Linked DNA regions of Homo sapiens: region 2 is linked to region 1. Evidence: fine-mapped expression QTL. A gene starts in region 1. The other region holds a variant in brackets. All regions are shown on one strand. Distances are between the middles of the regions. Region 1 holds the start of DNAH10 (dynein axonemal heavy chain 10). Region 2 overlaps DNAH10 (dynein axonemal heavy chain 10).

Region 1 (8,475 bases):
ACAGATGCATTTCATTTTTATAAATCTATCCTCCAGAAATACACAAAGTATGCAAGGATAGACAGACATTATTCCATTGTTTGTAGAATGAATACTCTGAAAAGCTAAGTGTCCATTAATTAGAGAATGGATGAGTAGAATGTGGTACATCTATGTATTTAAATCTATCAAGTTAGGTAGAACTATAGGAATTGGCATGAAAAAATAACCAAAACATGTGGTGGGGGGAGAAGTCACAAAATAATATGTATATATAGTATGATATTTATAGTTTTAGGAACTCTATATATCCATATATTATCATTATAGAGAGAAATATAGACTGTAGATGGAACAAGGATAGACAGATATAGATGACAAGCAGGTAGGTAGGTAGGTAGGTAGGTAGGCTGATTAATTGATCTCAACAGCCCTGACCTTATGCCTAGACAGACAGAGATAGACAGACAGACAGATAGATAAACAGACATGTAGGTAGGTACATAGATAGATAGATGTATAGATAGAGAGAGATAGATGTATAGGTAGGTAGGTAGACAGGAGATAGATGTATAGATAGATAGACAGACAGATGTATAGATAGATAGATGTATAGATAGATGTATAGACAGATAAACAGATGTGTAGATAGATGTATAGACAGAGATAGATGTATAGGTAGGTAGATAAATTGGTAGATAATTGATAGATGGATAGATAGATGATAGGTAAGTGATAGGTAGACAGACACACAGATTGGTCAGTTGGCACGTAGATAATAGAGGGATAGATGTATAGGTAATTAGGTAGGTAGACAGGAGACAGACAGATAGATGTATAGGTAGGTAGGTAGATAGATATATAGATAGAGATAGATGTATAGGTAGGTAGGTAGATAGATGTATAGACAGAGATAGATAGATGTATAGGTAGGTAGGTAGATTGGTAGATAATTGATAGATGGATAGATGATAGGTGAATGATAGGTAGATAGACACACAGATTGGTCAGTTGGTAGATAGATAATAGAGAGAGATAGATGTATAGGTAGGTAGGTAGACAGGAGATAGATAAATAGATGTATAGATAGAGGTATGTATAGATAGATAGATAGATAGATAGATAGATAGATAAAGTATAGATAGATGCATAGGAAGGTAGGGAGACAGATCAGTCGGTTGGTAGGTGATTGGCTGATTGATTGACTGATAATTTGACAAAAGAGCCAACCAGAAACACACCAAACTAATAATAGTGGTTACCCCTAGGAATAAGAGCAGGACTGGGGCTTAAGGGATGGAGAAGCGTTGCTTTTTCTTTTTATATGTAATTCTATGTTCTGTGAATTCATAAGAGAACATGTGTTATGGCAGTATTTGTGTAATTTCTTTAAATGTAAGGAAGTTACTAAATGATATGTACAGTACGATTCCGTTTTGTTTTTTCCAGAAGGAACACATGTACCTACTGCATCAGTATCTTGGGTATCTGCTGCCCGGAAGGACACCTCGCCTTTATTACCACCACCTGCCCCAGTATCTGCTTGTCTCCATTCCTATCATTTTTAACCAGGAGCAGAGAGAAATCTTGACCGGGGAAGGGGGGCAGAAAGAGGAAAAAAAAGGAAACAAAGGACACGCTGGGCTCTCTGCAGGTCCTCTGAACAGACCAGAACCACCTGTCCCCCAAAAATAATCTAGGGAAACTGTTCAAGGGTTATATGAGCCTGTAGGTTTAACAAGCAGAGAGTGAGTGACAACGTGTGGAGTTGGGGATGAGGTCTCTTCTCCCCACCTGGCCAGAACCCCCAACACCCGACGCCATCTGGCACCTCCAGAATCGGCAGCTTTGAGAGTTTCCAGAGACAGCATCTTCGGCGAGGAATCCATCAGCTTTTCACCATGAGGTGATAGTGGAGAAGGGACGGGAATGGAAGGGAAGACCAGGGACAGAGACAGCCCAGAAACGGGTCAGGGGGCGGGGTGGGGGAGTTCTGAGCTCCCTTTGGAGGGTCCAGGAATTAACCAGGGGGACCCTCTGAGGTGAGACTGAACTCTGCTTCCACACTGGATGACATTTGGGCTAAACACGTGCTAGTAAACACAGCAGACAACAGCCACCCCACCGTTAACAGAGGCCCTTGGAGGGCTTCTGCAAGAAATCCAAGTCACATCCATTGTTTTAGGGTCTTGTAATTTTTTTTTAATGTAAACGAAACCCGAGTTCCTGCAGTGGTGGTACATGTTAAACGGTCAATCCTGCGAGTGTGTTTTTGGTTTCCATAATTTCACTTGGTGCCAATGAAAGTGCCTACATCCGAGGTCCAGTTATAATCTAATGTTCAGGTCCAAAGGTCTGCCAGGGAGAAAAAAATAATAGGCTGGAAGGTTAAATTCCAAAACGTGATCACGTGGTCCTCTCTCCAGATGGCACTAGGGATTTGTTATTGTTGTTTATTTATGGTTTTGGATTTATGATGAAGGCGTTTTATTTTGTGCAAGCAAATAATGAATATTTAAAATAAATGAAGGTGGCCAAGCGCGATGGTTCACACCTGTAATCCCAGCACTTCGGGAGGCCGAGGTGGGCAGATCACTTTAGGTCAGGAGTTCAAGAGCAGCCCGGCCAACATGGTGAAACCCTGTCTCTACTAGAAATACAAAAATCAGCCAGGCATGGTGATGGGTGCCTGTAATCCCAGCTACTTGGGAGGCTGAGTCAGGAGAATTGCTTGAACCAGGGAGGTGGAGGTTGCAGTGAGCCGAGATTGCACCACTGCACTCCAGCCTTGGCGACAGAGCTAGACTCTGTCTCAAAAAAAAAAAAAAGAAGTGGCCAGGTGCCAGATGGCTAACACCTGGAATCCCAGCACTTTGGGAGGCCGAGGCGGGAGGATCACTTGACCTCAGTAGTTTGAGACCACCCTGGGCAACATGGTGAAACCTGTCTCTACCAAAAATATAAAAATTAGCCAGGCATGGTGACGCATACCTGTAGTCCCAGCTACTCAGGAAGCTGAGGTGGGAGAATCACTTGAGCCCTGGAGGCAGAGGTTGCAGTGAGTCAAGATCGCACCACTGCACTCCAGCCTGGGTGACAAAGTGAGACCCTATCTCAAAAAAAAAAAAAAAAAAGTTAAAAAATAGAATACAATAAATGAATCTGCCTGGTACCTTTAAAAAAAAAATCAAAGGTCTGCCGGCCCTGCCACCCGAACCCAGTGAGAGGCCCTGCAAGGGATCCCCAAGTCCTTAAGGGGCTGGAAAAGTAGCCCAGGAGACTGGACAGCCAGGCAGGAGGTCCCGGTAGCTGTGCTCCAGCTGGTGCTCCTGCGAGGAGGCGGCTTTCGAGGTCCCAGTCTCCTTCTAGCTGTTTCTGAAGCGAGTTGTCCTGCCTCCTCCTCTCACCTGTGCTGGCCCCTCCCTGCCCTCTCAGTGTCCCTGGCCTATCAGAGAGTAGGTGGGGCTGGGGATCCGCCTCCACAGAGGGTTCTGGGACCCTGGTCACTGTCTTTTTGTATTTGCGATGCTAATTTGTTCAACATAAACATTTAAAGTCTACTGTAGTTTTTAAACTTTGTCCTAGCCTTATTTTACTTTTTAGGATATAAGGAGCCTCCAGAAGTAGAAAGGGGTGCTCTTCGGACCCTCCGTGAGAGGCTGCGACCGTCAAGGAGAGTGACAGTGACCTGGGTCCCTGCCACACCTGGGCATGGCTCTACCCAGCCGTTCGGATTATTGCACAGTGGATCTTGACGCCCCGTGGGCCTTGGGCAGGTTACTTAACCCCCTCCGTGCCAGTTTGCTCATCTGTAAAATAGGGATGAGGATACACCCGCCTCGTAGGGTTAAGGAGTTGATACAAGCGTTGGAACCGCACCTGGCACGGGGTGCGGGCTAAGTCAGTGTTTGCTGTGATTTTTCAATCAAGGCCTGACTTTCAAGTGGGCTGTGGGCCCAGGAGGGCAGGGACGGCTGTGATTGCTGGGTTCGCCCGGGGCCTGCACGTGGCGGGCGGCAGCGTTTGTGGACAGCACCTGAGGCCGGGGCCGGACGATGGGCAGGCTCTAGCAGCCCCGGCGCCCGCCGGAGAGGCCGGGACGGGCAGGAGGGAAGCCCGGGGAAGGGAGCGGCGCGTCGAGGCTCACCAATCTCCACCTCCACCTCCTCCGGCACCATAGTGCGGTAGATGAAGAGCGCCGAGGGCCCCTCCTCCTCGCTCGCCTGGTTGAGGAAGTGCAAGATGAGGTCCTCGCCCTGGCCGTCGTCGCGGTTGAGCAGGTCCTCGAAAAGCTGGGGGTCGGTGATGCCGAAAGCCGCATACACGCGGTCGCGCATCCACAGCACCCGCAGGTCGTCCATGGCGCCGCGCAGTGCAGAGGGAGCCGGGCGCAGGGCGGGCGTCCGTGGCAACGGCGGCCCTAGCAATGGGCGCCCCGGAAACGGCCGCAGCTCGCCCCGCCGACGGCGCCGGCGCTGGGGGCTGCAAGCTCGGCAGTGCCCCGCGCCCGGCCCCTCGATCCCGAACCCGCGAGCCGCAGCCCACGCCCCGGCCCCGGGATCTCGGAGGCGCGCACCAGGCCCCCGGGCCGCCGAGGTAGGCTGGTTGCTCCCTGGCCCCGGCAGCGCGCACGCCCCTGGATGCGGAGCGGGACCCTCGCCGCCAGGAGCCGCCCTCGGGCCGCTGCAGCCGAGGGTGCGACCCCACCCCACGCCGACCGGTTTGCAAGCAGCCCGCCCACCTTGCAGATGAAGCTGGGGCTAGAGAGTTGGCGAGACGAAGGTCACAGCACCTCGGCGGTGGCAGAGGCGGGATTAGAGGCCAGACGAGGAGGAAATAAGCCGAGAAAGCACGAGTTCCTCATGGCCTACAAAATCAGGGAAGGAGCAGAGTTCTTTAGCTTTCTTGCCAAACTAGAGCATAATAAAGCAAAACACCCACGTTTAAAAATATAGATATATTTATTTGTCATTAGCAAAAGGAAGTTAAATACTGATAGAAGATGCAAATTTGTCCTTTCATGCATTTGTGGAGCAAAGTACTAACTTGTTCACTGTCATTTCCCCTCACAAGGAGTTGAGCCCCTAGATGACTCAGGCTAACCCTAAGAACCTACCTAGCCTTCTTAGATATTCCCATCAAAGAACAGGTGGAGTGTACTAAGTATTTCTGAAAATTCTAAACCAAATCAGCAAAAATGGCCTGACTGTGGGAAGACTGTTCGTTCAAACTGCCTTATTCCCATCATCTTGATTTGACAGCTTCATAATAACCTTCCTGGATATATTCCCTGTGGCACGCAAGCAAACCCGGCTTTACGTTTTTAATAGAGGAATTTATTGTTTTAAATGCGGACTGTAGAATAGGTGTAGAAGTTGTTTTTCTTTTCCAAAATGTATCAGGCTCTAAAACGTCTGAATATGTAATTCATGGACATCGTAAGGCTGACCTATGCTACAGGTATTCTGTGCCTTATTAAACAACTGCAGAGGGCCAGGCGCGGTGGCTCACGCCTGTAATCCCAGCACTTTGGGAGGCCAAGGTGGGTAGATCACCTGAGGTCAGGAGTTTGAGACCAGCCTGGCCAACATGGTGAAACCCTGTCTCTACTAAAAATACAAAAATTAGCCGGGCACTGTGGCAGGCGCCTGTAATCCCAGCTACTCGGGAGGCTAGGGCAGGAGAATTGCTTAAACCCAGGAGGCAGAGGTTGCAGTGAGCCGAGACTGCACCACTGCACTTCAGCCTAGGTGACAGAGTGAGACACTGTCTCAAAAAAAATAAAAAAATTTTTAAATAAACAACTGCTGAGGGGATGCTGACACCAGAATGTTGTTATAAAATATCCATTCCAGAAACAGAGCAGCATTCAGCGAAAGAGGAGTTCCAAGTCCTTTCGCTGCTGGAAAGTCCGCAGGGCTCACCCAGATCCTATCAGACAGAACACCCTTTGCACTCCTTAACTGACCACGGCAATTACAGTCTCCAGCCCAGCAGGTTGAATCAAAGTCTAGTTTACTGAAGAAATCCCTTGGGTTTTAAGATTCTGTTAACACATGGTAATAAACATCTAAATAAAAACTGAGAAATGTCGTGTCGTGACATTTATCTTTAGGAAAATAAACATATTCAGTATCATCCACACAACTTGCCATCTGTGCTCTGGATCTCTGCTATCAAGGGAATGAAGTATGTTTTAAAAACTGGATACATAATAGGTTCTAGCAAAAGCCTTAACAAACAAAACTGAGCGATAACTCTGGTAACATGACACTGGAGCCCATCGCTTTATAGAGAAACAAATTCCCGTGGCCCCTATAAGACACTATTATCAAACTACATTTCCAGAGAGCGCTTTCCCAGAGTTAGGATTCTGAATTCGCTTTTCATATAATGACATTCTACATAAATACTACATAGATTTCAACAGAGAAATGACTGCATCCTCTGCTCTATGCTGAGAAGAGGTGTTAATTAGAAAGAGTTAAAAAAGTGGCCCCATGAGAATTACTAGTGGGGAGCAGTAAACAATTCCCGTGAATATCGTGTCCCTTATTTACCAATCAGCTAACAGTGCCCTGAAGTCTTGGGCTTCCTAGGGATGAAGTAGTTACCATTGTTTTTATGACAGACCCCTGGAGCAAAGTAACACAAATGTCCCCTTGTGGAAGCATCAGCTCTAGGTGAAAGCAACTCTGAGACCTGACCAGCACTGCTGGGATGTCATAGTCACCCAACACAAGTGCCCGACATGACACCTTTCTAGGGAAGCATAACTTTGAGAGCAGAATCATTTTCAAGCATTTCATCGGCATCATTTGATAATTTAATATGAGGGACAAAAAGCAGTAAGTCCAAACTGGCCTTGGGTAACATCTCATCAAGTAGCACACAGAATCTGTACTGTAATTGAAAGGGTTTAATTGTAAGTCACGGCTGTGTCAACGCTGTTCAGCTCATGCCTTGAAATCAGCTGCACAGCCACGTTAAACTCAGCACCTCCAGACTCTCAGCTTGTAACAGAAGTGCCAAGCTCTCTACCTCGAAACAGGATAGAGGAGGATGCGGGCAAATAGCCTTTTAACGTGTATCACTCACAATGTCAAGAAGGTGAAAAAAAGTCAGGTTTCTTTTTGAAAATAATTGTCTAAAATCAAACTAAAATATGAAAAATTAACATAATTTGCAAGAATATAGGTCAAAATGTTCAATAGGACTGACTCAAGTTCACAAAAAACCAAATGTCAAACAGATGAATTTAAACTAAAGATTATAAAACAATGGCTATTAAGAATTAGTTTTCAACTGATCTAAACAGTGTTTGAAAGTTTAAATTAACTCAATACTTTTATCAGAACTTTAGCTAGAAACAGTCTGAAAGTAAAAAAAGTATCATTAGACTGTTCTCAAGGATAAGTGCAATCTCTTCATGGTAAAATATCTTCATTTATATTTAGACTGTTCTCAAGGATAAGTGCAATCTCTTCATGGTAAAATATCTTCATTTATATTTTGTTACAAAAATATACAAAATACTACTTTTTACCTTTCCTTCACTCAGTATAAACCCTTCTGGTTCAGTGACATCAGCCAAGCTGTCACTAAATTCAAATCATGTCCGCATTATATCTTCTACAGTCACACTGGGTTTTAAGGCTCAGCATACAATTTATCTTCCAAACATACAATTATCATAACTGGTTTTATGTAAGGGTAACAGGATAAGAGTCTTTAAAAAAATATACAAGTGGGATAACCATTTGTTGTATGTCATTTTATCCCATTGTCCCCAATTACTAAAACAAGACAAAATTGTAAAAACAATCCTCTACTTGTAATTCTAGGTAGCACAGGATAAAAAATATTTGCATATTTTGGCCAGGCATGGTGGCTCACGCCTGTAATCCCAGCACTTAGGGAGGCCGAGGCAGGTGGATCACTTGAGGTCAGAAGTTCGAGACCAGCCTGGCCAACATGGTGAAACCCCATCTCTACAAAAATACAAAAAAATTAGCTGGTCACGGTGGCGCATGCCTGTAATCCCAGTTACTCGGGAGGCTGAGACAGGAGAATCACCTGAATCCAGGAGGCGGAAGTTGCAATGAGACACGATCGTGCCATTGCACTCCAGCCTACGTGACACAGCAAGACTTCATCTCAAAAAAAAAAAAAAAGTACATATTTTTAAATCCAGCAGAATAAATGTGAATGTTTTGATTACCCATCATTAAATTTTTTAAAAAACTATCCCTACTTCAGCTGTTGGAAAATATTATCTGGCAACTTCAGGTGACAGATTAACTCTGTTGTTTGTTTTAAATAAAGTTTAAAGGAAATAAGTATCTAATACCATTTTCAACTAGCCATGCAAAATTGGCTTCTCTCCCCAAATCCTGTATTTGAAAAAATAACTTTAACATAACGTTTGGCATTAACTTATATTTGCTCATCATAAAAAACCAAAAGAAATTTTTATATCTCAAATTGGTAAACTTT
Region 2 (8,000 bases), 150 kb before region 1:
TAGATATACCCCCAAGAGAATTAAAAACACACATTCACACAAAAACCTGCACACAAATGTTCACAGGAGCATTGCCTTAATAGCAAAACAAGCGAAACAACCCAAATGCCCATCAGGTGACGGGTGGATAAACACAGTGCGGTCTGTCCATACATGGAATGTGACTCAGCCACAGGCAGGAATGAAGCGCTGACACACGCAGCAACACGGATGAACCGTGAGGTCACGGAGTGGAGTGAAAGATACCAGTCATGAAGTCACACACCGTATGATGCCATTGACATGAAGTGTTCAGAGCAAGTAAATCCTTACAGATGGAAGGCAGAGCGGTGACTGCCAGGGACTAGGAGTGGGGGGCCAGGGGGTGACTGCTAATGGGTATGGGATTTCATTTCGGGGCTGGTGGAAACGTTCCGGAGCCAGAGAGTAGTGATAGCTGCACAACTCTATGTATATGCTATGAATCACCACCGAATGGTATATTTTTAAAGGACGAATTTATGGTATGTAAATTGTGTCTCAATAAAGCTGCTATCTTAAAATTCAGTGCTTTAAACATTCCTCTTGTAACATGAATCGCCAGACTCAAGAATGCCATTCGGAGCTGGGCATGATGGCTCACACCTCGTAATCCCAGCACTTCAGGAGGCCAAGGTGGGTGGATCGTTTGAGCTCAGGAGTTCGAGACCAGCCTGGGCAACATAGTGAAACCCCATCTCTACAAAATATACAAAAACTTAGCTGGGTGTGGTGGCGTGCCTTTAGTCCCAGCTACTCTGGAGGCTGAGGTAGGAGGATCACCTGAGCCTGGGAGGTGGAGGTTGCAGTGAGCCGTGATCGCACCACTGCATTCCAGCCTGGGTGATGGAGCAAGACCCTATCTCAAAAAAAAAAGAAAAAGAAAGAAAGAAAGAAAAAAGAAAAAATGCTATTTGGTAACTTTCCATTTTCACAGATCACGTTTCCTTAAAGCCACGTCTGGCACACCAAACTACACTAACATGTCCTCCTCTGTGGGGAGAGCTCACCTGTGCAGCCGTGGTTATAGATGCTGAAGGTCAGCGTGTCCATGATGTTCCTCAGGCGTTTCATGAGGATGGAATCAGGCAGCGACTTCTTCAGTGACAGCCTGAAGACCTCTAAGAAGGCAATCAGGGAGTACTGGTACATGGAGTTCACCAGGGCCATCTCAGACAGGACGAAGAACAGGATGGCCCCCCTCCTGGCTGCTGGCCGGTAGCCATCCCGCAGCCTGTCGATGTCCAAGGCTGTCTTCTCCGCCAGCTTGAGTTTCTCTGAGACCTGAAGAAAAGCACAGGTGACCCTGGAAACAGGAAGACTGAGATGTGGGCAGAGGGCAGGAGGGGCAGGGGGACAGCAGAGAGGTATGTACAATGCTTCAGGGCTTTGAAAGTATCCAGGGACTGCAGGGGAGCGAGGGCACCCACCCTCTTGTAGGAAGGGGTGAATATTTGTGGCTGACGCCCCTGCACCCATGGCCCCTTCCCCTAGTAACACTGCTTGTAAGTCTCCGGTACTGCCCTCTCCCTTTTCTTCCCATATGGGGTTCCACCCCGACTCCAGGAGATGTGACCCAGGGCCAGCTAACCTGAGCCTAGCATCCCCAAGCTCCCAGGGCTGCTTTGGGGTAGAAACGTGACCTAAGTGACTCTCAGGACCTTCACGGTAGGAACAGGAAGATTCTCACTTACCCCTTTGGGTTTGGACCCGAGAGGACGTGAGGCCAGACCAGTCTTATGACCATGTGGGGAGCTGGCAGAGAATGACGCCAACCCAGTAGAAGGCCCAGCCCAGAAATGGACAGAAACCAGGTCCTCCTGGTATTTTTGAAGTCCTGGATCCAGCCCCACCTGAGGCCATCTCTGAACTTTTCTGCTTTCTCAGCTGATAACTTCCCTTTTGACTTAAGCCAGGCAGGGCTGGATTTTCTATCACTCTCGATTTAAAGAGACTGACCTGATGCCCAAGGGTCCCTGGGAACACCTTTAGGGCTCCCCTCCCCACAGCACATCCCAATAGAGGTGGGTTTTTAGCCCTGAGATCACAGAGCCCCATTTTCTCATTGAGCAGACAGAGAAATGGACGCTCCAACGGCGCATGCAGGCCCCGCCTGACTCACGGCCTCTTCCACTGTGGTTGCTACCTCTGTTGCCTTGGATTTGGTCTCCTCCAGGGTGTGCACCAGGTCCACATTGTCCAGCATGTTCCCCGTGGACGTGGCCAGCTCCCGAAGGAGGGAATCTTCCAGGTCCTTGAGCAGGTTCTTGTTCTCGCTGGTCTCCTGGATGAGGTGCTCCCGCTGCTCCTCCAGCTCCCGCCTCTCGTAAGCCACCAGCACGCTCAGCAGCTGGTCCTCCAGGCCCTTCAGCGTGACTGTGGGGGACAGTGAGAGGCCCTCACCACCTGCGGCCCCCAACAACAGTCTCTCCCGCTGCCCTGCTGTGACGGGACAAGCTTAGCGCGGGTCTCAGCCAGCAGGCCAGAGGCACGAGGATTCACTGCCCACCAAAGTCACTCTAGAGCAGCAAGGTGGCAGGCAGGAGCAAAACAGCGATGCTGTGGTGCAGAGTGGCAGATAAAAAGGAAAAAACACACTGAAATAAAACCCAGGCTTCCACGGACTGGGGTGCCATAGTTTAAAGTATACCCAGACTGGGCGCAGTGGCTCATGCCTGTAATCCCAGCACTTTGGGAGGCAGAGGCAGGAGGATCACTTGAGCCCAGAAGTTTGAGCCCAGACAACACAGACAAACCCCATCTGTACAAAAAAAGAAAAAGAAAAAAGAAAAGAAAGTACATCCAAATCAAATTAGCCTATTTAAGCAGGAGCATGACAGCCCTAGAGAATGTAAGAGATAACATCCCATTTCTATCAGAATTCAACTGAGAGGAAGAAAAAAAAAATTCAACATCACAACATGTATTTTAAATACACGAATATAGAGTAACTTCCTGCCCCCACAGTCAGAGGTCCCATCCCACCCCATGTGTGAACACATAAGCCCACGGCCCCGTCTCAGCGTGACTCATGACAGGTGACTCATGGCCTCACACCTTCTAAGTGGTACCTAATTGGTAAGAGCTGACTAGTCCAGATGTGCCTATGAGAGAATGATCTGGGGTCACTGAGTGAAATGATGTCCCATGAATGCCTTGATCTGAGGTTGCGGTCTCCCTCATAACCATCTGAATTAGCAGTGGAGGTTCTACACATTCTTACCAGTGTAATTGATCACCATAGCTTTCCCAAACACGGATGGGGAATATCTGGGATTGGCCAGCTTGGTGTTCAGGTACAGTCTGAAATTTGAATCATAGTCCACTTCCTTGTCTCCCAGGATAATAAACTGCCGTCCTTGGGAGACTTTTATATTTTTTTCTAAGACGTTGTCAATCACAGGATCGATGTATTCATCAACATCGCGGAACAGGAAAGGGGTCCCGTACTTTATGGACATCTCTAGCTGCTTGAGGAAGTCAGGGTCATTAAAGGAAGCGACCTGGAAGAGAAGGGAGGCAGATGCTGAAAGCCCACGTTTAACTGTGGCCCTGCCAAATATAAGGGGAGAATGGCTTGGAAGTGGGAAGTGGATGGGCCAGGAACTTGGAGGGGGCCAGAGGTGAAAAGAAGAGAGAAGCAAGGGGTATAACGCATATACACCATGAGGTCCAGGCTCAGGGCAGGATCTTGCTCAAACAGGGTAGAGAGGAAAGGAAGGGGATTCCTCAGCCCCTCTCCCGTAAGCTAGAACCCCTCCTCTTTAAGAGAGAGGGTAGATGTTGGAATTGGACTAGGGGTAGGCTGACAATTTCAGTGCTCCCTGGCAGGCTGAGGGAAGAGGGAGTCTAGAAAAGTTCCTGCCCTCATAGTATTTGCTCCCTGATAGCTCCATGTGCATTTTGGAGGCAGACTGTTCCCCTGACCTTGGAGTACAAATGGGCTTCCTCTAACAGCAGGCAAATACCTGAGATCAAGGACCAGAAAAAAATGAGGAAAAGCTAAATTGAAAATAATTAATTTGTTCATTAGCTCAGCAAAAAGTGATTGGGCCGCCCCGGCAATTCCATTCCTAGGTATCGCCCCAAGAGAACTGAAAACACATGGCCACATAGAAACGTGTGCACCAACATTCACAGCGGCATTCTTCAAACAGCCAAAAAGTAGGACAACCCAACTGTCCCTCAGCAAATGGATGGATGAACACAATGTGTCTGTTCATACACCGGAATATCATTCAGCCCAAGGAAGGAATGACGCCCTGATGCACTACAGCAAGGACGGACCTTGAAAACATCAGGCTGAGTGAAAGGCGCCAGACACAAAAGGCCACACAGCGTCTGAGTCCATTCCTAAGAAATGTCCAGAGGAGGCACATTCACAGA[C/T]GGAAAGCAGATGAGTGGCTGCCAGGGGCTCGGGGAGGGAGAAACGGAAGGACTGGAGGGGTGATGGCTAAAGGATGTAGCATTTCTTCCAGGGATAATAAAAATGTTCTAAGACTGACTCTGGTGATTGGTATACAACTCTGTAAATATACTAAAACTCAAACTGAATTGTATGTTTTCAGTGGGGGAAAGGTGTGGTATGTGAATTACATCTCAATCAAGCCATTACTCTCCCCTCTCCTCCCCTGCATCCCCATCCCCCACCTCAGCTCCAAAAAATAGTGACTGAGCACCCAGACCACGAACCCCGTACTGGACAGAGGAACACGAAGCTAAGGTTGCTCACAGCCTGCGAGGGGAGAGGCAGAGTTCATGGCGGTTTGAGCTGCCCTGGCAGACCCACGGGGTGGAGGCGGAGGCGGAGCCGGGGGAGGGCTCCGCATGGGGGTCAGGATGGAAGCATTTCAGCCCAGCCTCGCTGAGGCTAGGGACTGCCACGTACAGGAGGCGGGAGGGGCATTCTCCAGAGAACAGGAATAGGGGGCAGAAGACGCCCTGGGAGGAGCCACCATACCCGCAGATTGTTCTTCTCCTCTTTTCTCTTGATCCAGTTGAGGGCCTGCTGCTGGGGGTCGATACACAGAGGGAAGCGGCTGGCCCGGGTGGTGAGGATGCCATTCTGAACGGAGAGCTCATCGGGGGGAAGGCCCTGGGATCCCCATCTGGAAGAAACAGCCATTGGGAAATGAATTTTTCTCACCAATTTGTGAGCCAAGGGCTAAGGGTGGTAGGACTGGCCTTCCAGAACAATCTACCCATCCCCAGGCCACACAAGCCTCCTCAGAGGCCAGGGAGAAGGGCTCCGTGCTGGGTTTGCAGCTTGCCCGGCCACTTCCATGCAGTCGAGCCAACTGTGGTCCTGGTGATGCCCCCCAGGCCATTGCCTCCCCCCAGGGTGACACCCACGTAGACCCCCTGTGCTAAGGTGTCCCCTCCCTCCTGCTGGCTCAGGGTGCCACACACCTGCTGATCTCAACATCATCCGTGAGCAGGCTTTCCAGCCGGAAAGGCTGGCTCAGGGGGATCTCCCGCTCCAGGATGTCATTTTGCCAAATCCGATTGACCATCTCGTCACGGAACTCCCAGGTGAAGGCTCCCTCGTAGCTGAGGAAAGCCGCGCAGAGCAGGCAGTCCCCCAGCAGCTTCACGCGCCGGTGCATCAGCTCATCCAGGTCGTTCAGCCACCTGGCACGGGAGGAGAGGGAGGCTGCCGTGAGTTTACCTTCTGGCCACAACCAAAAGGAACATTCCAGAAGAACCAGCTTGATACCTTGCTAACAGGGCTAGCCAGATGGAAACATGTTTTGAGATATTCTTTCCTTGTGAGGAACAGAGACCAACAGCTTATCTTGCAACTTCCCACCCTAGTGAACCTGGTATTTGGAGCCAGCATCAAGCAGGGGGCTCAGTAAAGGCCTGTGGTCTTTATTAAGCAGTAATCACATTGCGTGGATCATATTAAGTAGTAATCACGTTGTTTCTGAAGCCTTAATCAAAGACATATAAATCAGCCCGGCAGAGCTAACAAGTTCTGGCCTCACTCAATGACAGAATTCCACCCAAGATAAAAGAAAGCGTCTGTTTCATTTGTCCTCTTTCAGTAAATGCCCCAAGACTTAGGTTTAAGAAATACTGAAAATTGTTTCCCACACGCAAACAACATTTTTCAGTGTTTTCTACACCACACTTACAGATGCTAGATTCAAAATTGTTGCCCTATTTGGTGAATAAGCTGTGGCCAAGCGGTCTTGCCCATAAATATCAAACAGCCCCATCACTTAAGACTGAAGCCCAGGATTGAACAAGCCACTGGGACCCTTAGAAGGCATCTGTGCGGTGACAGAGATGGGCTTCTCCCACAGACTCTTCTAGAAAAGACCCAGGGGTTAGAGGTCACCAAGAAGTGAACACTTCCCAAACCTAGAGCACCCTGCTAAATGGTATGGATTCCCCCGTCTCCACAGCTGCACTGCCTCCTTGACCCTTAGTAATTAATAAATAACACTCAGTGCCTAATACAAACAAGAGCCTATAAAATAGCCATTAGCTGCCATAAACATGATAATAGGAACATAAGACCTGGTCACATGGTTTTCACATAAAAACACAACGTGAGATAAAGAATCAACATGGCGAGAAACTCTGTGGGTGACGTCCGTTTACAAACCGCAACAGGTGGGCTCGTGAGCAGCGCTAACCTGATGTTTTCTGACCCCAGACCCGAGATGAGTTTGTCTGCGGCAATCAGCCGCCTCTCCATGATCTCGGCTTCTTCCTGCAGCTTCTGCTTTTCCAGTATGGCGGCCTCATATTTGGCACCCAATGTTTCCAGCTCTTTCTGAATTGCTGCCAACTCATTCTGGATCCTTTCCAGTTCCCGTTTAGTGAGGTAAAAATTCCGCTCCAGCCTGGCCACCTAAGTGAAGACAATTTGCAAAAAGATGGGGAAAAGGACCGTGGTGGGGCCGCGATCCCATGGCCTCAAACCAGGCCACATGTCTAAACTGCTCTAATGGTGTCTGTGCTTTTCAGAGCCTCTATATGCTATGTTGAGACACGTGGCTTCTTAGTTTCTTCTTCGACTGTTTGCTGCAAAAACTCCATGTCCCATTAGAAGACACAGCACCCAAGTTATCAAATGGTTTTACTTTCATGTACTGAGGTCTCCGTAAGATGACACTGTGGTTCTAAGTCAAAAACTCAGAAGAATATACCATAGACAGTAACAGTATTTCTATTGGTTCCAAGCTTTCTGAATAATACAATTCCGAGCTATAGCGCAAGGTCACAATATGACTCAAAATGATCAAATTAACCTTATTCTCTTTGTATTTTGTGATCTTCATGTGACTTTGGCCCCGCTGCTCTCAACTGCGGTAGGTTTTGTCCCCCAGGGGACGTTTGGTACTGTCTGGAGACATTTCTGGATGTCACAGCTTGGAGGGAGGGTGCTGCTGGCATCCAGTGGGGTGAGGCTGAAGATGCTGCTAAACATCCTATAGTGCCCAGGACAGACCCCCCCAGGACAGACCCCCCCCCAGGACAGACCCCCCAGGACAGACCCCCCAGGACAGACCCCCTGCGGGAAAGACCCCCCCCGGGACAGACCCCCCCCAGGACAGACCCCCCCGGGACAGACCCCCCAGGACAGACCCCCCCAGGACAGACTCCCCCAGGACAGACCCACCCAGGACAGACCCCCCAGGACAGACCCCCCCCAGGACAGACCCCCCCGGGACAGACCCCCCCCAGGACAGACCGCCCCAGGACAGACTCCCCCAGGACAGACCCACCCAGGACAGACCCACCCAGGACAGACCCCCCCCAGGACAGACCCCCCAGGACAGACCCCCCCCAGGACAGACCCCCCCCAGGACAGACCCCCCCGGGACAGACCCCCCCAGGACAGACCCCCCCCCAGGACAGACCCCCCAGGACAGACCCCCCCCCAGGACAGACCCCCCCAGGACAGACCCCCCCAGGACAGACCCCCCAGGACAGACCCCCCCAGGACAGACCCCCCCCCAGGACAGACC

Evidence for each region. PIP is the estimated chance that this variant, and not a neighbour inherited with it, causes the effect.
Region 2: its variant is the best candidate, but not a certain one, in a credible set for the expression of DNAH10 in coronary artery (GTEx, PIP 0.87).

What each region holds. Positions count from the first base shown.
Region 1 is chr12:123,758,202-123,766,676 of GRCh38, reverse strand. DNAH10 (dynein axonemal heavy chain 10) reads right to left here and starts at 4,376. Exons shown (of 79, transcript NM_001372106.1): 1 at 4,127-4,376. The coding sequence starts at 4,340. It overlaps ATP6V0A2 (ATPase H+ transporting V0 subunit a2), which reads right to left. Exons shown (of 20, transcript NM_012463.4): 20 at 4,922-8,475. LOC105370044 (a long non-coding RNA gene) reads left to right here. Exons shown (of 5, transcript XR_945481.4): 5 at 1,429-1,509. RefSeq lists a silencer at 4,376-4,795.
Region 2 is chr12:123,911,978-123,919,977 of GRCh38, reverse strand. DNAH10 (dynein axonemal heavy chain 10) reads right to left here. Exons shown (of 79, transcript NM_001372106.1): 60 at 6,663-6,880; 61 at 5,428-5,649; 62 at 4,979-5,126; 63 at 3,242-3,521; 64 at 2,165-2,394; 65 at 1,029-1,302. Among named protein-coding and RNA genes, the nearest start is that of DNAH10OS, 19 kb to the left of the region's middle. RefSeq lists enhancers at 998-2,197, 2,369-2,870. The variant C/T (reference allele first, on the strand shown) is at 4,405.